Homo sapiens: one gene and its partners. The protein of the gene in region 7 purifies or fractionates together with the protein of the main gene of each other region. This does not show direct contact. Each region holds a gene or a part of one and is shown on either strand. Other genes may lie near its edges. The genes, in order: NDUFS1, OGDH, VDAC3, HADHB, AMZ2, ATP6V1A and PCCB.

Region 1 (3,500 bases), on a different chromosome or scaffold from region 7:
CTGTTAGGAATGCTTGCCGCAATTACCACTACAAACTTAGGCTGGTAAAATCTTGGCTATCCTCAGCTACGATGACCTCCAAAGTATCACCTCCACAAACAAGTTTGCCTCGTGCTCCAAGTTAAGTGAGTTGTCTCCATCTGTACCAAAGAAGTTCTCATCTTCACAGCCTGCCCCGGCCTCGAAGAAATTCCATTTTGAGGGGGTGGAGAGGAGCATAGGAGGAGCACTGAGCCCAGCCACCAGTTTTTCAGTGCATAAAAGCTTCCCACATTGTATGTGTTTAGATTTCTAAACTGCTGAAATGGTGGGTTTTGTCATTTTTGGCCAGCTTTACTTTTGCTTTTCAGTGGGAAGGTTTTTTGAGCTCCTTAATCTCCCATAGACAGAAATCCTGCCCCTCTTGTTGAATCGTCCCAGATTTGGCTAGTTGGAGCCCCTTCAAACTAGCTTCTGTGTCAGATAATAGTTTTAAAGCCTTCCTTACTGTGCCAGGAATTTATGTGTTCAAATGTGGGTGTGCCGGGAGCAGTGGCTCACACCTATAATCCCAGCTTTTAGGAGGCCAAGGTGGGAGGATTGCTTGAGACCAGTAGTTCAAGACCAGCCTGGTCAGCATAATGAGACACCGGCTCTACAAAAAATTTTTAAAATGTGGTGAGAGGATAGTTTGAGCCCAGGAGTTCTAGGCTGCAGTGAATTATGATCATGCCACTGTAGCCTGGGCAACAGAGTGAGACCCCAGGGCAAAAAAAAAGGTGGGGGGTTCTTTTATTTAATTGCAGTTCCTCTAAGCTTCATTTTTTAAAGTAATTCAGAAAGGGAATTAATTGTAAAAAAAATTTTTTGGTAAACCAGGTAACAGAAACTTTCTTTATTCCCAAAAGCACCATAGTAAACACCGTATGTGTTTCTCAGAAAGACAGAATCCATTGATGTAATGGATGCGGTTGGAAGTAATATTGTGGTTAGCACAAGAACTGGAGAAGTGATGAGGATTTTGCCACGTATGCATGAGGACATCAATGAAGAGTGGATCTCTGATAAAACCAGGTATATGCTATATTGTTTTCCTTAACTTTTACAGTTTATTTAAAGGAAATTTTATAATAATTTTGAAGAATTATCTTTTATATTTGCAAATTAGTTACTGAATATAGACTACTGGAATCTGAGTTGCTTATATAATGTGATAATACTGACTTTAATAGTCCTAGGTCAATCCCTGGATATTGTATTTACTTTGAGAAAGATATTTTTTCCTCCCACATGGAGAAATTCAAGTAGATTGATACATTCTCAACTTATTTCAGTTTGTTCATTAGAGAAAAGAAGCTAGGCTGGGCGCAGTGACTCACACCTGTAATCCCAGCACTTTGGAAGGCCGAGGTGGGATGATTGCTTGAAAAAGAAGCTGAATAGAAGAGTTTGCACAATATAATTTTGATAAAATATTTAGAGATACTCATGCTTTGTAAATAAAAATGATTTGACTTTTTTAGCTGTCAGATTTTTTTGTGTTGTAATTTTAAGATTGTTCAGTTAGCTGAAAGTATAAGAAATCAAACTTTTTTTTGTATGATTTAAGGGAAGAAATCAAACTTTCAGATGGTATTTTAGTTTTAGGTGAAGTTCATAAAATCTATTAGTTCATCTCTAAAAATATCTGGAATAATTACTTGTATCTAGGTGTTTAGATATTTGACACTTTAACCAGTACTGTATTTAAATAACATTTCTTGTTGATTTAACTTGAAAATTATAGTTACTTCTTTAGCAAGATTCCACAATGGTGTAATTTCTGTTTTCTAGATTTGCCTATGATGGGCTAAAACGTCAAAGACTTACCGAGCCAATGGTCAGAAATGAAAAAGGGCTTTTAACCTATACTTCTTGGGAGGATGCGCTCTCTCGCGTAGCTGGAATGGTAAAATTTGAAATAAATAGTGTTAAATAGTGTTTGTGATTATCAAGAAACATCTTTGCCATGAAGGGGGGGATGTATATTTCTTCCCTTTTTTACTTTTACCAAGATTATGATTTAATCTCCTTCCATTTTACAGACATCTACTGAGGACATATGCTAGATATTATGCTATTAAGGGATATAAAGACCAGAGACACATCATTCCTGCATCCTACAATCTTGTAGTAGAGAAAGTTGCACAATTCAGCAATTATTATATGCAGCTATGAGTAATTATATAAGGAGTAATATGAGTGAGAGCACGTAGGAGGAATGCCTAACTAGGACAGGCATATCAAGATGCCTTCCTTGGAGGTTGCAGTGAGCCGAGATCGCACCACTGCACTCCAGTCTGGGTGACACAGCGAGACTCCATCTCAAAAAAAAAAAAAGCTGCCTTCCTACAGAAGGTGATTCTTAAAGAAGAATCTGAGAATGAATATAAGCTTGCCAGAGTACAAGTGGAGGGAATAGTTTTCTTGTTAGAGAAAGACAACATAAAGCACTAGAGGGAAAGGCAGATACTTCAGAGGAGGTCGCATTTAAGGTAACTATAGTTCCACTTCATTCTCCAGACCTCATTTTGAAGTGCCTTTGTTCCTAAATATAAAACAGCTTCCTTCTAAGTTGATGTTATTAGCTGTGGCCCCACATAACACCTCTGCAGCTTTTCACTTTTAGATTAATTAATAATTGTTGTACAACTTTTTTTGTGTTTTTGAGATGGAGTTTTGCTGTTGTCGCCCAGGCTGGAGTGCGGTGGCGCGATCTCGATCTCGGGTCACTGCAGCCTCTGCCTCCTTGGTTCAAGCAGTTCTCCTGCCTCATCCTCCCGAGCAGCTGGGGATACAGGCGTATGCCACCATGCCCAGCTGATTTTTGTATTATTAGTAGAGATGGGATTTCACCATGTTGGCTAGGCTGGTCTTAAAGTCCTGACTGCAGGTGATCCGCCCACTTCTGCCTCCCAAAGTACTGGGATTACAGGCATGAGCCAGTGTGCCTGGGCATGTTGTAAAACTTTTAATCAGAAGTCTGTTAACTTTTTTTGTACTTGAAAACAAGTACTGTTTTATTTTCTGAACATTTCATTGTGGTCTTTGCTGCGTGTAGGTTTCTTGGTGATGCCCTTTTCATCTGTTTCTAGTTGCAGAGTTTTCAAGGCAAAGATGTGGCAGCAATTGCAGGTGGCTTGGTGGATGCTGAAGCCCTGGTAGCTCTCAAAGATTTGCTTAATAGAGTGGACTCTGACACCTTATGCACTGAAGAGGTCTTCCCCACTGCAGGAGCTGGGTGAGAAATATGAAGCTAGGATCTAGGCTTTCCTTTCTTTTTTTAGTTACAAGTTATGTATAAAATGTGACAACCTGGATTCTCCAACATATCCCCCAGTTTATTTTCATATATAGACCAAGATCAAACCAGAAGTTGTAGGAAATAGAGGAATCCACTTATCACTAAGTATCTCAGGCACAGTGGCTCACGCCTGTAATCCCAGCACTCTGGGAGGCCAAGGCAGGCAGATCGCCTAAGT
Region 2 (3,500 bases), on a different chromosome or scaffold from region 7:
CTTGGCCTCTGCCAGGGCTCACCTCTCTTCCAGAGCTCAGCACACCCCCTATGACCACCTGTTCAAACATCCGTCCTCCCCACCGGGCTGGGGCCTGCAGCCTATGTGATTGCTCCGCATGTGGTGCTCAGCAGTATGCAGGGGCCCAGTCGGGGAAGAGGACACACAGAACACGCAGTTCCCTCATGGCAGCAGTGAGGAGGAAGGGCGAGGCTCCCTGACACCATGTCCTGTCCACACTACCCCTGCAGGTGCCCACCTAGCTAACCCCAAGCAAGAGGCTCTCTGAGGAGCCCTTCCCTGCACCAACAGGGCAGGGCCAGGCCTCGTTTGAGCAAGGGAGGCCCTGCCACTGACCGGCTTCCGGAATGGCAGCAGGATCTGGCGTCGTAGCACGTGGAAGAAGTTGCCAGGAGTGGAGCAGTTGACAACAACCCAATTGCAGTCATATAGCTGATTGATGTCGAAGTTGGCTTCTTTAAGGTCCTGCAGCAGGGAAGGAAATGGCCAGAGGCCAGGACACAGCACTGAGTCTTCTGGGGCATGTGGGGGCCCTCAGGTGATCTAGTTTGGATATTTGTCCCTGCCCAAATCTCATGTTGAATTGTAATCTCCCACTGCTGGAGGTGGGGCCTGGTGGGAGGTGTTAGGATTAGAGCTTGGGCCATCCCCTTGGTGATGAGTGAGCTCTCACTCTGAGTTCACACGAGATCTGGTTGTTGAAAGTGTGTGGCCCCTCTCCCCCACTCTCTTACTCCTGCTCTGGCCATGTGACATGCCTGCTCTCCCACTTCATCTTCTGTCATGATTGTAAGCTTCCTGAGGCCTCCCCAGAAGCTGAGCAGATGCCAGCATCATGCTTCCTGTACAGCCTACAGAACTGTGAGCCAATTAAACTTTTCTTTATAAATTACCCAGTCTCAGGTTTTTCTTTATAGCAACACAAGAATGGCCTAACACACTGACTCCCCAGGAGACATAAGCTGACACTAACAAGTGAGTCCAGCAAGCTCCTTCGGCCAGCCTCATACCCTGGAGGAGAGCCTCAGTCCCACTCAATCCATACTATTTCTCTGAAAGCTATTGCCCAGCATGAAACAAATACCACTTTAAGAGACACAAGTTCTACCTAAAACCAATTTTCCTTAGACACTGACACCTAATCATTTTCTTTGAGTTTTTTTTTTTTTTTTTTTTTTTTGAGACAGGAGTCTCCCTCTGTCGCCTAGGCTGGAGTGCAGTGGCGCAATCTTGGCTCACTGCAACCTCCACCTCCCGGGTTCAAGCGATTCTCTGCCTCAGCCTCCTGAGTAGTTGGGACTACAGGTGCCCGCCACCACGCCTGAATAATTTTTGTATTTTTAGTAGAGACGGGGTTTCACTATATTGGCCAGGGTGGTCTCAAACTCCTGGCCTCGTGATCCACCTGCCTGGGCCTCCAAAGTGTTGAGCTTACAGGCGTGAGCCACTGCGCCTGGCCAGTTCTTTTTTTGTGAGACGGAGCTGCCCAGGCTGGAGTGCAGCGGCACAATCTTGGCTCACTGCAACCTCTGCTTCCCGGGTTTAAGCAATTCTCCTGCCTCAGCCTCAGACTAGCTGGGATTACAGGTGGGCGCCACCATGCCCAGCTAGTTTTTGTATTTTTAGTAAAGACAGGGTTTCACCATATTGGCCAGGCTGGTCTCAAACTCCTGACCTCATGATCCGCCTGCCTGGGCCTCCCAAAGTGCTGGGATTTCAGGCTTGAGCCACCACACCCAGCACAGTTCTTTTTTTTTTTTTTTTTAAGACAGGGTATTGCTCTGTCACCCAGGTTGGAGTGCAGTGGCACGATCTTGGCTCACTGCAGCCTTGACCTCCCAAGCTCAAGCAATCCTCCCACCTCAGCCTCCCAAGTAGCTGGGACTGCAGGCGTGCACCATCACGCCCAGCTACTTTTTAAAATTTTTGTAGAGACGGGGTCTCACCATGTTGCCCAGGCTGGTTCTTTGAGTTCTTAAAGTTTCACTGGAATCGCCCCAAAGTTCTCTCCTCCTCAGGGCTTCCAGACCTGAATCAGGGTCTGGAAGCATCCCGCAGGAGCCCTTGCTGAGGAGCTCACATGGCGTTTCTGTGCTTGCAGCAACAGCAGGAAGCCAATGGAGGCAGTCCCTGCACCTTCCTCTGTGCTCTGAGGAAGTCTCTCATCCCAGGGCGCCCAGAAGCATGGGGCCACACCTGTCCACTCACGTGAGCTCCCCAGGATGGAGAAAGGGACAGAGGCACGGTCTGCCACTTCAGGATGACCAGATAGATTGCTCTTCCCCAGGTTTCCCACCAGACACCCCGAGAATGGCTGGGCTGACAGGGCCTGTATTACTCACTGGCAGGACATCTGGGTCATCGTTGCACATCTGCAAGAACCGCTCTGGGCGGGCGGAGGAATGTTCTGGACCCTGGAACCACACACGCAAGTTACAGTTTAAGAGCTCTTGCGTACTGACATTTGCCGCATCTGCTGTTCCTCCTCAACCAACTAGCTCATTTCTGGTTATCTTTTTTCTTGATGGCAGGGTTCAGTTCCTTCCCCCTCCCACCAGCAAAGCACTTGGCTCATCATTTCCACACTTGGACGCCTGTGCATCTAGGGAGTCTGCACCAGCAGGGACGGGGCATGCTAGCCACATCCAGATGGGCTACTCTGGCTTTCTGAAGTGACATCCCATCTGAGATGGATGGGAAGCACCAGCAGAGTCCTTAGGAGGCTGGTGTGAGCCACTGGCTCTCGTGCCAGTCTTTGGGGTCAGGGTCCTACACAGGCCCTTCCCAAGTCCTAGGTCTGGCAGGGAAGGGCCAGAGGCTCACCATGCCCTCCATGCCATGGGGCAGCAGCAACACGATGCCATTCTGCCGCACCCACTTGGCTTGTCCCGGGCAGATGAACTGGTCGATGATACACTGGGCCGTGTTGTGGAAGTCACCAAATTGGGCTTCCCAGAGGACCAGGGCATTAGGACTGGCCATGGCGAAGCCCAGCTCAAAGCCTACAAGGGACAAAGGAAGGAGAAAACCATGTCCAGGACACCAGCCAGTAGGCCCAGCGGGGGTGGGTGGGTGACAGGCCCTGGTGGTGTGGCTCCAGGCACTCACCCAGCACGCCGTACTCAGACAGTGAGCTGTTGCACACAGTATAGGGGGCCTGATTGGGCCAGAGATGGTTCATGGGGATGCAGGTTCTCTTGTCCACATTCTGGTCATGGAGCACATGGTGGCGGTGGCTGAGACAGGACAACAGAGGTAATAATTAGGAGCTCTGACTTGACAAGCAAATACGCTGGGGACCCGCACGAAGCACCAGCAGATGCCATGCTCTGTGACCTGGACTTCTGGCCAGGCAGCTGCAGGGTCGGCCCCACCCAGGTCTTAACAGAAGCACCCATAGCAAATGAGGGACAGAGGTTTTCAGCCTGAGAGCAATGTGACTCTTCCGGTTTCTAACCGTCTTCCGGAAAAGAAACACC
Region 3 (2,279 bases), on a different chromosome or scaffold from region 7:
ATAACACTAATCGCCACATGGAGTGGTTGTGAGCGTTAAATGACATAATATACATAAAGCCCTTAGCACAGTACATGAAATTTAACAGCTCAGTGTTATTTTTAGTAAGAGTTACTATAGCAACAGAAATAGTCATCTAATCCCATGAATTTCCAAATAAGAAAATTCTGAGGCCAAAGTGATAAAATGACAAGGTCAGACAACAGATATACAGGAAGAGCTAGGACTAGAAGAACCCCTATTTCCTGACGTCAAGCATAATTTTTTTTTTTTTTTTTTTTGAGATAGGCTCTCGCTCTGTCACCCAGGCTGGAGTGCAATGGTGTGATCTTGGCTCACTGCAACCTCTCCATCTGCAGGGTTCAAGCAATTCTCCTGCCTCAGCCTCCCTAGTAGCTGGGACTACAGGCGTCACCTACCACGCCCACCTAATTTTTGTATTTTTAGTAAAGACAGGGTTTCACCTTGTTGGCTAGGCTGGTCTTGAACTCCTGACCTCAGGTGATTCATGCACCTTGGCCTCCCAAAGTGCTGGGAATACAGGCGTGAGCCTGGCCACATTATATTCCTTTCACTACACAATGAGCTGGCTTATTAAAATTAATAAAGAACAAGCAAACTACACTCATATCACAACATTCTCTGAAAACTTAGACACAAACATAAGAGCAGATCCAATCTGGCAGCACATTCTTACAGAGAGAGAAGTTCTACAATCCAGCATGTACTTAGCAGCAATGCCAAAACGGGTGTTGTTACTCCCAGCTGTCCAAGCAAGGTTTATGGATGTTTCAATCTTCTCATTCACCTTCTGGTAGATAGAACCTCCAAATTCAGTGCCATCGTTCCTGTTTTCATAGATAAGAAAACGTCATAAATATCTAGTTTGTACCATTGTTATTATGGTATGAAAACAAATTCTAAGACTATCTAAACAAGGATCCCATTTTGTAACTATAGATTTCAGCAAATTTCTAGCATAAATGACTACTAAACAAAACACAGAACTAAATCCAGCTATGCCAGTAATGACTGCTTAATTAAAACGTTAACACTTGATCCATTTACTTGGCTCCTCCACATGATGTGAGTTTCTTAAGACAATTCAATTAAGCACAAAGGCAGACACCTCGGGTAAGTATAATCTATAGGTCTCTGAGAAGTTCATAGAACTTAGAAACTTCAAAGTAGAGTTCAATAAAGATTCTGCAAAAAAATAAAAAGGTAGAGGTATAGGAATAAAACCAATTCTGGATTTCCTTTAAAACACAATCCTACAGTTAGAAAGCACCCTCCTACGATACCTAGGGTGCACTGCTCCAGAAAACCACCTTAGTTATTGCTTCCAAGCATGCCAGAGGTGAGTCCTTGGGTTTTCACATGGTTTTCCTGATAATACTGTTTCATCAATTTCAGTAACTGTCTATACCACTGCTTGCCTTTGTTTTAGCCATCATAAGTAAATTAGAGCATCTAGCAGAGAGGAATCTGCAACAGTTTAAAAACACATAGTTTGCCCTTTGCTTTTTCTTCCTGGTATAGTAGCAGTGTCCAGTAGGCTCAACATAAAATACTACGTAAAAGTTCTGATTCATCCCACCAACATGGTGCAGCCTACATAACTGAATCCCAGGACTCTTTCAGAGCACCTGTTACTTCTGAATGCATTAGCGGTACCTGGGTTCCAACCGAGAATACCAGTACCTGAAACCTCCACAGAATTACCGGGATGTCCCAGGATGCTCAGATCAATTTGGTGGTGGTTGTTGGTGACCAAAACAGACCTGCTTCCAGATACTGTCAAGATGAGAGGGCAGCAGAGGAAGCAGTAACATCTCCAAAGGGTCATCTTACCATGAGGTAAGCCATGCTCTGGGCTCCCTCTATCCCAGTGGTTCTTCTACAGAGGCTGGAGCTTCCTCAAGTTTGGGGTGCAGGCTGAGGGGCCAGTGACCACCAGCAGCACAGCCTGCACACCACGTGCACCAGCCTCCTGGCAAGGTTTTGCTATGAGGATAGCACCGCAAGGATGGATATTCACCAAGGCATGCTAAATCTGAGTACCATCACTTCTCAGCATGCTAATGGCTACAATATTTTGGGCAACTGCACTGATACTAAGGAATAAATTATAAACACTCACACATGTGTGTGCAGCTGGAAGTCCGCAGCCTTGTAACCCAGGGCGAAATTATTCTGTGACAGTTTGGATTTGGCTGTGTCAAAACTCATCTGATAGCCAGCAAGCCACCCTTCGAAGGCCAACACAGCCCAGCCAT
Region 4 (3,500 bases), on a different chromosome or scaffold from region 7:
TATTAACTAGTTCCTAATCACTTCTATTTCAGGAATGGGCCCTCTTGCACATGGGAGAAGAAGATATTCATCAATAGAGAAGCATTTCACAAATTGCAAATTTAAAGTTAACTTTTGGTTCCATAGCAGGTCTCAAGAGCATTTGTATGCCATTCACCTCCAGGACGGACAGCAAGAGGATAAATAAACTGACCAACGAGGTTTATGGAACCTCCATGACTCCAGCAGGTTCAAATCCCAGAAAACAGCCTCCCATTAACATCCTCAAGCCTAATCCTAAATAATGTAGTATCATTATTGATTGGACCTATAATTTTTTAATTTGAAGGCAACAGAGATGTTCATGTGCTCATAAAAAGGGGAGAATTAGCAAATTAGTTTTGGTTTTTATTCAGAGTTCACAAACTATAGAATCTGGAATCTAACATTTAAATCAGAAATATTTATTTTACAAATTACTGTACCTGGGGCAGCTCGTAGCTGGGAGGAACAGCTCAGAGGTCTTATGGCTGGAAGACAAAATAAACTGTTTACAAAAAGCAATACCATTCAGTATCTGTGCGAGATGTTTATAAATCCAAATCCAATCTCTAAAAATAAAAAAATAATAATAAACTTACAAAATCTGAGGGCCCATTTTGATGCAGTGGGAAGATTTTTAAAGGGGTAAGTCAAGATAGTCATTCTGGAATCTAAAAAGAGAAGAACAAAAGTATATCCTGGATTAGCTGAACAATTTGTAGTTTACATTGTAGTCTATGAACTCTGATAACCTCATCCATGGCTACTAGAAAACATTAAAACTTAATCTTATCAACTATTCTTCATCTAATAATATTATTATGATAGGAACACCAACATGGTTTTCACATTGCAGCAACCACTATTCTAAGCATTAACCATCTAATCTTCACAATGACCTACAAAGGAGGCATGATTATTACATCCTTTGTAAGAGATAAGGAAATTGAGGCATAGTAGGATTGAGTGACTTGCCAAAAGACCTACAACTAGTGAGTGGCAGAGCTGGAATTTTTATTTATTTATTTATTTATTTATTTATTTATTTATTTATTTATTTTTTTGAGATGGAGTTTTGCTCTTGTTGCCCAGGCTGGAGTACAGTGGTGCAATCTCGGTTCACTGCAATCTTTGCCTCCCAGGTTCAGTCGATTCTCCTGCCTCAGCCTCCCGAGTAGCTGGGATTACAGGCACGTGCCACCACACCCGGCTAATTTTTTGTATTTTTAGTAGACATGGGGTTTTGCCATGTTGGCCAGGCTGGTGTCGAACTCCTGACCTCAGGTGATCCATCGCCTTGGCCTCCCAAAGTGCTGGGATTACAGGCGTGAGCTACCGCACCAGGCCCAGAGCTGGAATTTGAACCTAGGAAGTCTACCTCTAGAGTGTGTGCTCCTCTCCTTTAGGGTCAAAGAAGCAGAGAGACTGCTAGGCGTGATAATAAAACCATTAGTATTAGTTTCACGATTCTGAAGGCTGTACTATGATTATGTAGAAGGCTTTGTGGAATGTTTGTATCTGAAGGGAATATACACTAAATAGGGATGGTGAAGCATCATGTCAGCAACTTAATCTCAACTGCTACTAAAAAAAGTTTGTAGTACTGCACTTGCAACTTTTTCAAAGTTTGATACTGTATTGTTTCAAAACAATAAAAAAGTAAAACATATAATAACCCTATATGTTAAAAAATATGTAAAATATATTAACAACTTTCCCCCACCCCTCCAAAAAAGACTAAATTTCTAACAATGAGTTCCTACAGATTACTAAGGAAAACACTAGCAGACAAATAGGCACAGAATATGAACAGACCACAGAAAAGGAAATACAAATGGTTCTTAAGTATATGAAAAGATGTTCAATTTCACTCATAAGAAGAATTCAAATTAAAACCACAGATATAATTGTCTCTCAAAGTAGCAAAGATTCAAAGGTTTGATATATACTCTGTGTAGGTAAGAGTATGTGCAAATAGATATTCTCATATACTGCTGCCAAGAGAACTGGCACAGTCCATGGGGAGGGCAATTTGGTAATTATCCATGAAAACTATAACTGAAACTAATGTTTGAACCAGCAATTCCACTTCCATGAACTGACTTCATGGATATTACTCACACACAGGACATAATCCATATTGTTACTGTAATAGTCAAAAATTAGAATAACCAAAAAATAGGAAAATGGGTAAGTAAACCATGCTACAACACCCCTGTGAAATACTATGCAGCTGTAAAAGGTAAGGAAATGATTATGCACCAATTCGGAACCATTTTAAGCTGTATCATTAAGTGAAGAAAGCAAGGTGCAAAATAGCTGTACAGCATGCTATCATTCATGTTAAAAGAGGAAAAATATTATGTACATTTCCTTGTATCAGTATAAAATCCCCCTGGAAGTATAATAAAGATGTTAAAAATAATTGTTGGCTGGAAGAAAGGGAACTGGGTAACTAGGGGTCAGGGGTGGAAGACTTGTCATCACACACCTTTTATAATTTCTTAATTTTGAAGCATGTTTTAACAACAACAACAAAAAATCAAAACCAAAAAAATCCCACAAGATTTACCAACAAAGACTTTGGTAGCCAGCCTCCAAGTTGCCCCCCAATAATCTCTACCTCTTGGTATTCACATCCTTGTCTAGCTGCCTCCCTCTCCATATCACAGAATGTATAAACCAAAAAGTATGTTACAAGTAATGGTATGCCACTTCTGAGATAGGCTATAAGAGATACTGCAGCATCTGTCGTGGTCTCTCTCTCAGCTCACCCACTATGAGAGAAGCCAGGTGGCATGTCCTGAGCAGCCTTATGAAGAGGCTCCTGTGGTGAGGAACTGATGCCTCTTGCCAACAGCCATGTGAGTGAGCTTGGAAGCGGAGCCTCTAGCGCAGGCAAGCTTTCAGCTGACTCCAGCCCTGCCAACATTCTGACAGCCACCTTATGGGAAACTCAGAGCAACCCAGCTAAAGTGCCCTTGATTCCTGACCTTCAGAAACTATGAGATGGTAAACATGTATTGTTTTAAACTGCTACATTTGGCGGTAATTGGCTACACAGAAATAGATAATACAAAAGCTTTAAGGTTTAACTTCTCTTGGGTCTTTAGAGACTAAAAGAAGGAGGTCCTATAGCTTCCGAAAAGAAAAAAACAAAACATGTTCCAAACATGTGGATTGGAAAGAGATGGAGAAGCCCAAGCTTTAGGATCACCAGCCTAGGGATATTCAAAGGACTCTGGCCAGAGAAACACAAAGAGGCCCATGAGAGAGGCACCACTCAGAAGCTACTTACAATGCCACAAGGGTCTGGGCTACAAGTTCCCTTACGTAAGGTTCATCTTGAAATAAAATTCATGAAAATTGTCAAGAAAATGTTGAAAAACAAAAGGGGGAACCTTGTTGCAACAGATAACAAAACTTTCTAGGCCAGGCACAGAGGCTCACACCTGTAATCCCAGCACTTTGGGAGGCCG
Region 5 (4,181 bases), on a different chromosome or scaffold from region 7:
AGCCATTTAATATATTCTTCACTGATAATTCTGGTGTTTCCTAGAGAGCCTACAATATGGAAGAACATTTAAAAACAGACTTTAAGATGATTATTCAGTGTTTACCCAGTCTATGAGTAAGAAGATTCAAATTAGAAACAAAACCAACTCTAAATTTTCAATAACCTTTATCATTCATTGGTGTTGCTATGAAACAAAAAGAAACAAAATGTTATCTTTTAAGTCAGTTTGGCTACAAAACTTGTACCGCCGCAATGAATATCAAAAACGATCCTAAAACGGCCCATCTGAATCAGACCCATAGCCTGGACTATTCCTGACAAGAGCGCCACTGCAAAACTGAACCAAAACCAGCACATTACCAGTATTTACCAATGGACTGTATATAAATGCTGCGTTTGTTTGGAGAGGGTGTCTTTCTGTAAGGATCACTGAAGAACTGTTCAAAGTCTTGGGGAGCCTCAGGGTGGGAGGTGATCCAATCTGATGGAGAATGCAAGGTAATGGGTCCAAAGAGATCACTGGCTGGCTGGAAGGCTTCATTCATTAAACGTTGTTCCCCAGCATTTAATTTCTCATACTGTGATACAAGCACTGGGTTCTTTGAGATGAGAGCTGTTTTTAGTGTCTGTTCGGAGTGCCGTATTATTTGCATCTAACAAAAAAAAGCAAGTAATCAAATATAAAAATACATATCTACATTGGGGACTTTACCTATCCTCTATATTTCAGCTCTGATTTCTCCCTAGAGTGAAATGACTGATTGCTAATGCTTTAGAGTGGTCACACTTAGAGTGGTTTCCTCATGTCCAATTTCTTGGAGATCTAAGAAATTAAAAAGACAATCATGAAATCCATTCCTCCATCTCATATGGAACCTGCTCCCATTACAAAAACTAGTGGTGGCCAGGTGTGGTGGCTCATGCCTGTAATTTCAGCACTTTGGGATAGGAGGATTGCTTGAGGCCAGGAGTTTGAGAACAGCTCAGGCAACATGGTGAGACCCTGTCTCTACAAAAAATTTAAAAATTCCCTGGGCATAGTTGTGCACATCTGTGGTCCTAGCTACCAGGGAGGCTGAGACAGGAGAATCACTTGAGCCCAGGAGCTTGAGGCTGCAGTGAGCCATGACTGTGCCACTGCACTCCAGCCTGGGCAAGAGTCCAAAACAAAAAAAAAAAACCTCACGGTGACCACAGGAGCAGGACCTCACACCCAACTTCCTTCTTTTGGGGAATAATATTGGCCTGGCACAGTGGCTCACGCTTATAATCCCAGCACTTTGGGAGGCCAAGGCAGAAGGATTACTTGAGCCTAGGAGTCTGAAATCAGCTTCGACATCATGGCAAAACCCCATATCTACAAAAAAATTAGCCGGATGTGGTGATGTGCACTTGTAGTCCCAGCTACTTGGCAGGCTAAGATGGGAGGATCATCTGAGCCCAGGAGGTCGAGGCTGCAGTGGGCCGTGATCGTGCCACTGCAGTCCAGCCTGGGCAATAGAGACTCTGTCTCAAAAAATAATAATATGAATTAACTCATCAGTGCCACATGAAAAATACTCATCGTTTCTAATGTGACTCAAAGATCTTCAACATCAAATAAAAACAAAACTAATGTAAGCCCTATCATTTCTGCAATTTAACTGCAGGCTGAGAAACTACAGCTTAGCCACTGAAGTTTATGGCCTCAAAGTCATGTCACATTAGGGAAGACATCAGATGACTAATCAAAAGCCAGCCTCACAATGACAGGTTTCTTCCATTCACATCGTGTTCCTATATAGAGCTTTCATCCTTCCTCTTGAATGGGTCCGATGTTCCACCACGAGGCTTTTTGAATTAAGGAAAAAGTTGAACATCTCTGTCTGGATCATCTTTGTCATATTTTCTAATTATTTAGATTTTGCCAGTTTAATGATAGACGATTGATGGGAAAACTTAAGCTAATGTCTGTTCTGATTGAACCTATAAATTCTGGGGTTGAAGAGGCTGACTAAAATTCCAGACCAAATGTCTCTGTACTCAAAGCTCTGATATAAGCATAGGCTCATCCTCACTCCTACACAACTGGGCTGAAATCTGACTTCTACAGGACAAAATATAAAACAAGATGTACCTTCCTGTAGTCTACCTACCTTGATTAGGAAGGAAGGCTCCCATGGAAGCTTTTAACTTACAAGGACGGACATGTCTGGGCCTGGCTGGAAGAAAGTTGTGGAGTGTGACTTCATCTTAATATTAAAAAGGCAGTGTGAAAGGTCAGGAGGCCTCCTCTTGCCTCCCAAGCCTAATCTAGGGAAGCTGCGGGAGAAGATGGGCAGGGGGCGCAGAATTCGGTCACTGCAGTGGGCTGGAGGCCTAGGATGCTTTGGTCCCAAAACCAGAACATCACGGGCAAACGGGAAGGAGCTGGCCACCCTGGCTGGTTGCCTATAGCAACTCGCACTGTGGGCTCTGGTCCATGCAGACACAACCCAGTCTCCAGCTGGGAGTGGAGTGGGGGTTCCCCAGGGACTCTCGCTTCGCCTCTTCTTCCCCAGGAGCCTCGGGAAAGGCCTCCCTGGCTCCCTAGAGGCACCGACCCCGCGGACCCCGCGGCTTCCGCCACGTCCGCCCCTCCTACATCCTCATCCCGCTCCACCGACCGCGACCGGCCCCCGCCTCTACGACCCGGCTACCCTGCCTAGGGGCCCCGGCCCAGCTCTGACAGCACCCGCGAACCGCCCTGACCCGACAGGCCTCGATACCACCCACCCGCGGCAGCCCTCACGCGCATGCGCACCGCGTCCCTTCGCACTGCGCCACGCCACGCCCACTGGCGCCACGCCCCTTACGCCACGCGCCGCGCCGCTGCGTCGCGCACGCCCTGTGGGCCCCGCCCAACTCACGACCCACCCATGCCACGCCCCTGAGCGTGCGGCCGCCTGGGCAGGCGCAGAGCTGGAGTTCAGCGGCCGCGACCCGCCTCTTCCAGAATAGAGGGTAGCGAGGGGACTACAAGCCCCAGCTGTCCACCCCCGCAGTCGCCGATTCCTCGCTTGCGCTCGCGGCGGCTCCGCGGCCCGGTTCTCGAGAGCCACAGATGCGCCCGCGTCGCTGGGGTCTCCCGTGTGGGAACGTCCTCGGCAGGCCGCGGGTTTGAGAGGCATCGCCGGCGTGACGAATGCAACCAGCGTGGCCCCAAATGAGTCGGCGGCCGCCGCAGGTTGACGTAGAGCCGCAGCGCTCCCCGGGGCCGTCACCCTCAGCACTTTCCCTTCTTTATTTGTTGGGGGCCGCGGGGGCTGGAACCCAGAAGCGCAAGTGTGGGGCGCGTCCTCGTGGCGTCCCTGGCGCTCCGAGGCCGAAACCCGGATGCTGAGGGGAGGCCGTGAGCTCGGAAAGGCACCGCGGGGCCGGCATTAGGGCTGAGCTAGCTCTGTACCCTCTGGTGGGACTTTCGGTCTCTCTGGGCCTCGCCATTCTCTTTCTTTTTCTTGCTTTTTTTTTTTTTTTTTTTTTTTTGGAGACGGAGTCTTGCTCTGTTGCCCAGGCTGGAGTGCAGTGGGACAGTCTGGGCTCAGTGCAACCTTTGCCTCCTGGGTTCAAGCGATTTTCCCGCCTCAGCCTCCCCAGTAGCTGGAACTACAGGTGCCCGCTATCACGTCCGGCTAATTTTTGTTATTTTTAGTAGAGATGGGGTTTCACCATGTTGGCCAGGCTGGTCTCGAACTCCTGACCTCAAGTGATCCGCCCGCCTTGGCCTCCCAAAGTGCTGGGATTACAGGCGTGGGCCACCGCGCCCGGCTTTTTTTTTTTTAATACGGGTTTTCACCCTGTTACCCAGGCTGGTCTCGAACTCCTGCGCTCAGGTGATCCACCCCCCCGCACCCCGGTCTCCCACAGTGCTGGAATTACAGGCGTGAGCCACGGCGCCCGGCCTGTTATTTTGAAGTCAAGCTATTTTACCATCCTCTGGATTTTCGTCATCCTAATTCTCCTTCCCAGTCTCAAGGAAAGACAGGCACATTTTCTTGATGACTTCAGCATTTGTAACCCCTTGTTGGCTCTCCTTAGAGGACATTAACTCTGAACCTTTCAACTTCGAGGATCTCTTTAGCCCTTCCTTATTTGTTCACTCTCCTGGATCATGAATTCTCCAAATTTGTCCTTTGAACCCAGTGCCCATATCCACCCTCA
Region 6 (3,500 bases), about 23 Mb from region 7:
TTTTTTTTTTCTTTTCTGAGATGGAGTCTCACTCTGTTGCCCAGGCTGGAGTGCAGTGGTGCGATCTCTGCTCACTGCAACCTCCCACCTCCAGGGTGCAAGCGATTCCCCTGCCTCAGCCTCCCAAGCGGCTGGGATTACAGGCGCCTGCCACTATACCCAGCTGATTTTTGTATTTTTATTAGAGATGGAGTTTCACCATGTTGGCCAGGCTGGTCTCAAATTCCTGACCTCAGGTGATCCACCTGCCTGCCTCCCAAAGTGCTGGGATTACTTTGTGTGAGGCACTATGCCTGGCCTAAATCCTTAAATTTTGAAATATAGAAAGTGGCAGGAAATTGAGCCAAAAAGGATACAAGTTTCTTCATACACCTGAATAGTAGCCATGTCACCCTCCAATCGAATAATCTCTCCAACCAATTCGCTGTGGCCCACTCTCACCAGCTCATACATGGCTGCACCCGCCATGTCACAGGCTGTAACCACTGAAGAGAACAAAAGACTATTTTGATGACTTAAGACTCTAGTGCTCTGTGAATAGTCACAAATAATTAAAACACCCAATAAACCCAGTATTGTGCCTCTCTCATATATTCATAAGAAGGATAAAAACCTACTATGGAACATACTGGTAGTTTCACATAGATATATATTTTAGTGTATAATATAAAGAGGTAAGCCAAAGATTATTTATTTACATAATATACATGAAAACTTTTCAAACATTTCAAGTTCTGCATGGCAAACTTACCTGGTAGGATTCAGGTATGTTCTGAGAGTTGCTATGATACATGGAGTGAAGGCTTTGGAACAATAAAAAAAACTTTTAAAAGTAGAAATTGGAATAAATGGTTTGGCTAGTAGTATGGTAGAATGCCACACAATTATCACTTCGCTGTGCTGTTACCATTTCCTTTGAGAGACAGACCTAAAGCAACATGTTTACTTTCTAATAACTTATAGCAGTAGTTCTTAAAACTCTTCTGGGACATGGACCCTTTTCAAAAACTAATAATAGCTCTACTAGAAAAACTCACACACACATCTACAAAATTTTTTTCATAGGCCGTAAGGATATTTATAATCAGTCACCACCATTGGGTAAGAAATTGTCAATGGAATTCCATTTACTGAACTTACTATTTTGGACCATGTGGTCTAGTAAGCAAAAATTACTTTTCTAGCAGGGAAGGAAGGTTGCCATATTTTTAGACACGTGTAAGAATAAACCAATTTTTAATATTTAGCCTTCTGATACAACTGATTAGAACTATGTTATAGGTAATACTTCAGTGGAAACTATTAAAGCTTTATGAGTTAATTAACCTGTGTAAAAACAATGAAGACTTATTCATTCTATAAATATTTACCTCTATGCCGACTACTTAAGAATTAAGATGCACTGAAATACCAGAGATAATGAAATTTAAAAATCATATTTCATAAGCCAAAAAAGGATGCCATTGTTCCATTACCTTATTAAGTACTTAAGAATTAAAAATTGCAGGAGGCAAGGGGAGGGAGAGCATTAGGACAAATACCTAACGCACGTGGGGCTTAAAACCTAGGTAACAGGTTGATAGGTGCAGCAAGCCACCATGGCACATGTATACCTATGTAACACACCTACACTTTCTGCACATGTATCCCAGAACTTAAAGTAAAATTTAAAAAAATTTTTAAAATAAAATAAAAATTGTTTCCAGGAGCAGTTTACTACACAGTTTCACAGAATATTTTTTCCTAAACTCTCTGATGTTCTTTTGCCTTTTCTCTAAAGGTTCTTGGGTTTAGTCTGTCCATCCTGAAGACCCTTATGATCATTGAGAGGACAATTATTTCTCTGCATGGCAAAAGATACTGATAACCTTTTAATGACCTGCCAATGAAATCAAGCTCAAACACCAAGTTCTTGGGGGAGAAAAAAGAGGCACAGTGACTGACAGTCTTCATTTGCGTAAACATCAAAAAACTGTCATCACCACTACTCTAACTAGAACAAGAAAAAGACTATATAGCATGAGGTTTTAAGGATAATACATCACTGACCAGGTTTTACTTAGAGAAACTGTGACTGTGAATCACATTGTGTAGTGGGAGTATTCAATAACAAAACAAATACTGGCGTAAGATTTATTATTTAAAAAGCAGCACTCCATGTTTTGGCAGAATGGACATAAAGTTTGGGTCCTAAGACTTCTTTCCCACAGGTAGTTAATAATGTGACACTTAAAATAACCATTCAAAAAGTTTCATAAATGCAAAGGGCAAAAGCTAATATTGCTGAGAAATGCTCTGAGCGTTTGAATTATTAAAGTTCAAAGCAAATTAACATTTACTGAATGCCTGCTATATGCAAGGTATTACATATTAAAAGCTATAAACTTCATAGTTTATTTACCTCAAATTTAACAAAAAATTAAGACATATAAAACTGAACACTGGTTGAACATTTACATAATTATAAACAGGATATCACAAAGTAGTACCTCAATAATTATAAAATTTAGATAATCAATGCTAGATGAGCCCTTATGACAGAGATTCTACTTCGGTCTTATAGTCACTATGAGATCGCCTAAGGACAAACAGAATTTATGCAGGTAAACAGAAAGTTGTATATTTCTATGTAAAATATTTTGAAAAGACATTAATCAAAGTTAGATATCCTTATTTTGAGATTATGATGTATTACTTACCAGGTCCTGAGACCCCATGCACATAACCAAATGTGCTTTCTTTATCTTCATCGAGTATTTTGGGTAGCTTGGAAAAATCCATAATGTTAGTTTACCTATAGTAAATAAATAAATAAATAAGTTATAATTATAAACCGTAAAGCAAAAGACCCAAAATATAGGTAGTCCACTAAGATGAGACCACTCTCATCTTTGGTGTATTCTTGAGTTATTATACTTCTTCAAAGTAGAATAAAAAAATTCCTTTTCTTAATTTAAAAAAAATTTTTAAGAGGCTCTCTGTCACCCAGGCTGGAGTGTGGTGGTACAGTCATAGCTCACTGCAGCCTCAGACTCCTGGACTCTAGCGATCCTCCTGCCTCAGCCTCCCAAGTAGCTATGACTACAGGTGTGTACCACCATGCCCAACTAGTTTTTTGTTTGTTTGTTTGTTTGTTTTTTTGAGACAGAGTCTAACTCCACCACCCAGGCTGGAGTGCAGTGGAAGGATCTCTGCTCACTGCAACCTCTGCCTCCCGAGTTCAAGCAATTCCTGTGCCTCACCCTCCAGGGTAGCTGGAATTACAGGTGCACGTGACCATACCTGGCTAATCTTTGTATTTTTAGTAGAGACAGGGTTTTGCCACGTTGGCCAGGCTGGTCTCAAACTCCTGACCTCAAGTGATCCACCCACCTCAGCCTCCCAAAGTGCTGGGACTACAGACGTGAGCCAGCCACTGAACCCAGCCAAAATTCCTAAAATGTAGTTAAAAGTACCCTATTCCTGGATGCTGGATGGTTTTATCACAACTGAATTATATC
Region 7 (3,500 bases):
TTTTGTCAGATTCTGTGATGCATTCAATATTCCACTCATCACTTTTGTTGATGTCCCTGGCTTTCTACCTGGTAAGTTTTTGACAGAGTGGGGGCTAGGAGAGTTGCCTTTCCCAGTAAGGTGCCCACTTTATTTGGAGATCTTCTTGCAGAACTCCCCGAGGACTTGTGACTTCTCCATGTATTCTGGGTGTCCAGAAGATAGGGCTGTGTAAGGAATGGCCCTCTCCAGAGGTGGGAAAGACCTCACAGCTGAGAGTGGCAGGATAACCATGTGAGGACTTGTGGGTATCTAGTAACTCTTCCTCATGTCTAGGCACAGCACAGGAATACGGGGGCATCATCCGGCATGGTGCCAAGCTTCTCTACGCATTTGCTGAGGCAACTGTACCCAAAGTCACAGTCATCACCAGGAAGGTGAGGACCTCATGTTGGAGGCCATGACCCTGCTCACTTTCCTACAGCATAGCCGTGGTGGGAGGTCTGGCAGAGTTTTACCAGGGCTGGAAGGAGTACACCTTGCTCATCCTTAAAAAGATCTCTTGAGGATGTTGTTCCCAGCCCCGCAGAAATGTCTGTGCTTTTTTAACACAGGGGAACTGAAGGCAGTAGTGGGAAAAAGCCAGAAAAGATAATGAGCATTAACTTTGAAAGGTCTTACAGACCGTGGGCCTTCAGGAGCCCAGTAGGGCTATTCTTGTTCTTTGTCCCAATTTTACCTGGTTTCCTGGGGTCTTTCAGGGACATGATCTGGCTGTCTCAGGCTCTAACACTCAGCATTTGGATCTGTTTTAGGCCTATGGAGGTGCCTATGATGTCATGAGCTCTAAGCACCTTTGTGGTGATACCAACTATGCCTGGCCCACCGCAGAGATTGCAGTCATGGGAGCAAAGGTGAGGGCCTCTTGCTTTTCCCTTTCTGGGTCCAAGGACTCGACTCTACCAGCGAGAGCTCAAGGCATAGCTGGGAAATGTTGGAGAGAGGCCAGGGCCCCTAGGTTGAGCCAGGACTGAGGTGAATGGGACCTAGACCTTGGTAAGTCTCCCTCTTGGGGCTCCAGAGATAGCTCTGCCTCCTGTCCTATACCCTTTCTTCAGGCCCACGCTGGTGTCTTCATGCCAAGGTGGGTGCGGCAGGTGAAAGGAAAGTGAGAGGGGTCCAGAGTGGTTTTGAGATTGTAAGTAAAGGGGGCAAAGGGTTGAGTCAACTGAAGTCACCTTCAGAAGTATTGGACATTCTCCCAGCTCCACCTCAGCTTCCAGGGAGGGCCCCAGAGCTACTCTTTTAAGCTCATAAGAAGCTAAACTGTAGGTCCGACCCTAGTGACGTTGGACAAGGTACTTCCTATTGCTTGACCTATTCCTCACTCCTCCCTGCTTTGAAGTAGCTATTGTGGTCGAATCAGATAACTTCCAGGTCCCCTAGAGTTGACTTATAGGTGCTCTGACTTGAAGGCCAATCCTTCTAATTTCCAGTTCAGTCTGGTCGCCTCTGGCCACCGAATTGTATACTCAGGTCTTAGGGTACCGAAAAAGGGAAATAGCACATTTAATTCCCCTTGATACAAGACCATGGATTTAATAATGGAAAACAGGGCTAACATCTTTGGCTCAAAGAAATATGATGAGTGCAAATGGAGATGGTAGAATGGGCTCTGGGGAGAGAAGCTACTGGCTTTTGCCTGACTGCCCCTTATTGGGGCCACAGGGAAGCATCACATCCCATCATGCAGCCCCTTGTGTCATGATGGTCAGCCCCAGGCAGTTCCTCCCTCTATGCTATGGCCTTTAGAGATGGCACTTCCCCTCAGTACACTGATTTACCAAGAAATTTGCACCCACACACAGTGATAATGAGTTGAAGGAGATCTGTCCAGGTTGGGACGACCAAAGATGTTCATGAACTCCTCTAATCACAGGGCGCTGTGGAGATCATCTTCAAAGGGCATGAGAATGTGGAAGCTGCTCAGGCAGAGTACATCGAGAAGTTTGCCAACCCTTTCCCTGCAGCAGTGCGAGGTAGGGGACTGTGGTGAAGAGGGCAGCTTTGTTTGTTTGGTCAACTTGCTCATTCTTTCTCTACAGAAATTGTCACATAACTGCCTTTTTGCCTTTGCAGTCTAATCTGTTGACTAGTGAGGGTTGGGACTGTCCCTGGGCAGTCATCACTTGGACTAAGGACTGTGGGACAGGCTGCTTTGGTAACCACAATTAAAACAACATTGCCAAAGTGTATTAAATTTCTAGGTGTTGTTCCAGTTGTCTAGTGCTGTGCAGAAATTCACCCTATAACTCAACAGCTTAAACTAACCACCGTTTCCCCCACTGCTTATGGTTCTGTGGGGTCCACAATTTGGTCTGGGCCCAGCTGAGTGGTTCTTGTGCTGGTCTTGCCTGGGATCACCCACACAGGTATAGTCATTCTGTGGCTTGACCGGGGCTTGACAGTCCAAAATGGCGTCACTTACTTGGTAGTTGCTGTTAGCTAGACTCACTCCCCACGTGGCCTCTCACCCTTGAGGAGGCTAGTCCAGGCTTCCTTACATGGTGTCCCGAGAGTAGCAAGGGGGCAAAGGGAAACTGAGGCCTAGATTTGGAAGTTGCACAGTGTCATTTTTGCCACATTTTATAGGCCAAGAAAACTCAACAAGGTTAAGCGAAGGAATACAAATCCACCTCTTGAAGAGAGAAGTGGTAAAGTCACATTGCAGGACTTGTGTACAAGGATGAATTGTTATAGCCATTTTTGAAAACCTAGATGTATTTTCTTTATTTCCTATTGAATTCATTGTGGCAGGATGGAGGCATTGGAGCAAGCAGGGTATAGGGAGGGTGTCCGATTTTCCTTTTCTTGCCAAGTGCTCCTAGGCCAGAAGTTGGGGAGCTGTCAGAACAGGCCAGCTCCTGGGATACAAGGGGGAATTCACAGGGCCTACCATCTCTGTATCAGGTTGGGCACTGCTTATACTGCTGGCCCCAGGGATGGTGCCCAGGCTGAGCAGAAGGTTGAGGGGTGGCATCATCTCGGGATGCAGATGATCCACTCCCTTTTCTGTGCTTCACCAGGGTTTGTGGATGACATCATCCAACCTTCTTCCACACGTGCCCGAATCTGCTGTGACCTGGATGTCTTGGCCAGCAAGAAGGTACAACGTCCTTGGAGAAAACATGCAAATATTCCATTGTAAACAAATCAAAGGAAAAGAAACCAAGAACTGAATTACTGTCTGCCCATTCACATCCCATTCCTGCCTTTTGCAATCATGAAACCTGGGAATCCAAATAGTTGGATAACTTAGAATAACTAAGTTTATTAAATTCTAGAAAGATCTCTTTTGTGCCTTACTGTAAAATTATTTACTTTTTTAAACATTTTAAGTTGTATTTTTTGAGCATAAATTCGATTTTTTTAGGTGGAAATCTGAAAAATCAATACAACTAGAAAGAAAAATAGTACACAGTGTTATCATCTAGAGCTGATTTTTATTTCACACCTCTGGG

What was found.
Region 1: the proteins of PCCB (region 7) and NDUFS1 fractionate together in Homo sapiens (co-fractionation; one large-scale study listed by BioGRID). This does not show direct contact.
Region 2: the proteins of PCCB (region 7) and OGDH fractionate together in Homo sapiens (co-fractionation; one large-scale study listed by BioGRID). This does not show direct contact.
Region 3: the proteins of PCCB (region 7) and VDAC3 fractionate together in Homo sapiens (co-fractionation; one large-scale study listed by BioGRID). This does not show direct contact.
Region 4: the proteins of PCCB (region 7) and HADHB fractionate together in Homo sapiens (co-fractionation; one large-scale study listed by BioGRID). This does not show direct contact.
Region 5: the proteins of PCCB (region 7) and AMZ2 purify together in Homo sapiens (affinity purification with mass spectrometry; one large-scale study listed by BioGRID and IntAct). This does not show direct contact.
Region 6: the proteins of PCCB (region 7) and ATP6V1A fractionate together in Homo sapiens (co-fractionation; one large-scale study listed by BioGRID). This does not show direct contact.

What each region holds. Positions count from the first base shown.
Region 1 is NC_000002.12:206,142,445-206,145,944, reverse strand, and holds part of NDUFS1 (NADH-ubiquinone oxidoreductase 75 kDa subunit, mitochondrial isoform 1 precursor), read left to right. Parts: intron 1-918; coding exon 919-1,053; intron 1,054-1,812; coding exon 1,813-1,927; intron 1,928-3,113; coding exon 3,114-3,259; intron 3,260-3,500.
Region 2 is NC_000007.14:44,697,127-44,700,626, reverse strand, and holds part of OGDH (2-oxoglutarate dehydrogenase complex component E1 isoform 1 precursor), read right to left. Parts: intron 3,258-3,500; coding exon 3,130-3,257; intron 3,024-3,129; coding exon 2,845-3,023; intron 2,436-2,844; coding exon 2,364-2,435; intron 487-2,363; coding exon 358-486; intron 1-357. UniProt on the Homo sapiens protein: 2-oxoglutarate dehydrogenase (E1o) component of the 2-oxoglutarate dehydrogenase complex (OGDHC). Participates in the first step, rate limiting for the overall conversion of 2-oxoglutarate to succinyl-CoA and CO(2) catalyzed by the whole OGDHC.
Region 3 is NC_000008.11:42,401,880-42,404,158, reverse strand, and holds part of VDAC3 (non-selective voltage-gated ion channel VDAC3), read right to left. Parts: coding exon 2,144-2,279; intron 1,207-2,143; exon of another isoform or gene 1,069-1,206; intron 849-1,068; coding exon 698-848; intron 1-697. UniProt on the Homo sapiens protein: Non-selective voltage-gated ion channel that mediates the transport of anions and cations through the mitochondrion outer membrane and plasma membrane.
Region 4 is NC_000002.12:26,251,439-26,254,938, reverse strand, and holds part of HADHB (trifunctional enzyme subunit beta, mitochondrial isoform 1 precursor), read right to left. Parts: intron 693-3,500; 5' UTR 685-692; coding exon 621-684; intron 510-620; coding exon 465-509; intron 1-464. UniProt on the Homo sapiens protein: Mitochondrial trifunctional enzyme catalyzes the last three of the four reactions of the mitochondrial beta-oxidation pathway.
Region 5 is NC_000017.11:68,246,662-68,250,842, reverse strand, and holds the start of AMZ2 (archaemetzincin-2), read right to left. Parts: upstream 2,801-4,181; 5' UTR 2,138-2,800; intron 658-2,137; exon of another isoform or gene 656-657; coding exon 373-655; coding exon of another isoform or gene 363-372; intron 50-362; coding exon 1-49. UniProt on the Homo sapiens protein: Probable zinc metalloprotease.
Region 6 is NC_000003.12:113,778,035-113,781,534, reverse strand, and holds part of ATP6V1A (V-type proton ATPase catalytic subunit A), read right to left. Parts: intron 2,795-3,500; 5' UTR 2,782-2,794; coding exon 2,700-2,781; intron 486-2,699; coding exon 357-485; intron 1-356. UniProt on the Homo sapiens protein: Catalytic subunit of the V1 complex of vacuolar(H+)-ATPase (V-ATPase), a multisubunit enzyme composed of a peripheral complex (V1) that hydrolyzes ATP and a membrane integral complex (V0) that translocates protons.
Region 7 is NC_000003.12:136,326,840-136,330,339, forward strand, and holds the end of PCCB (propionyl-CoA carboxylase beta chain, mitochondrial isoform 1 precursor), read left to right. Parts: coding exon 1-71; intron 72-315; coding exon 316-416; intron 417-794; coding exon 795-893; intron 894-1,918; coding exon 1,919-2,018; intron 2,019-3,065; coding exon 3,066-3,187; 3' UTR 3,188-3,330; downstream 3,331-3,500. UniProt on the Homo sapiens protein: This is one of the 2 subunits of the biotin-dependent propionyl-CoA carboxylase (PCC), a mitochondrial enzyme involved in the catabolism of odd chain fatty acids, branched-chain amino acids isoleucine, threonine, methionine, and valine and other metabolites.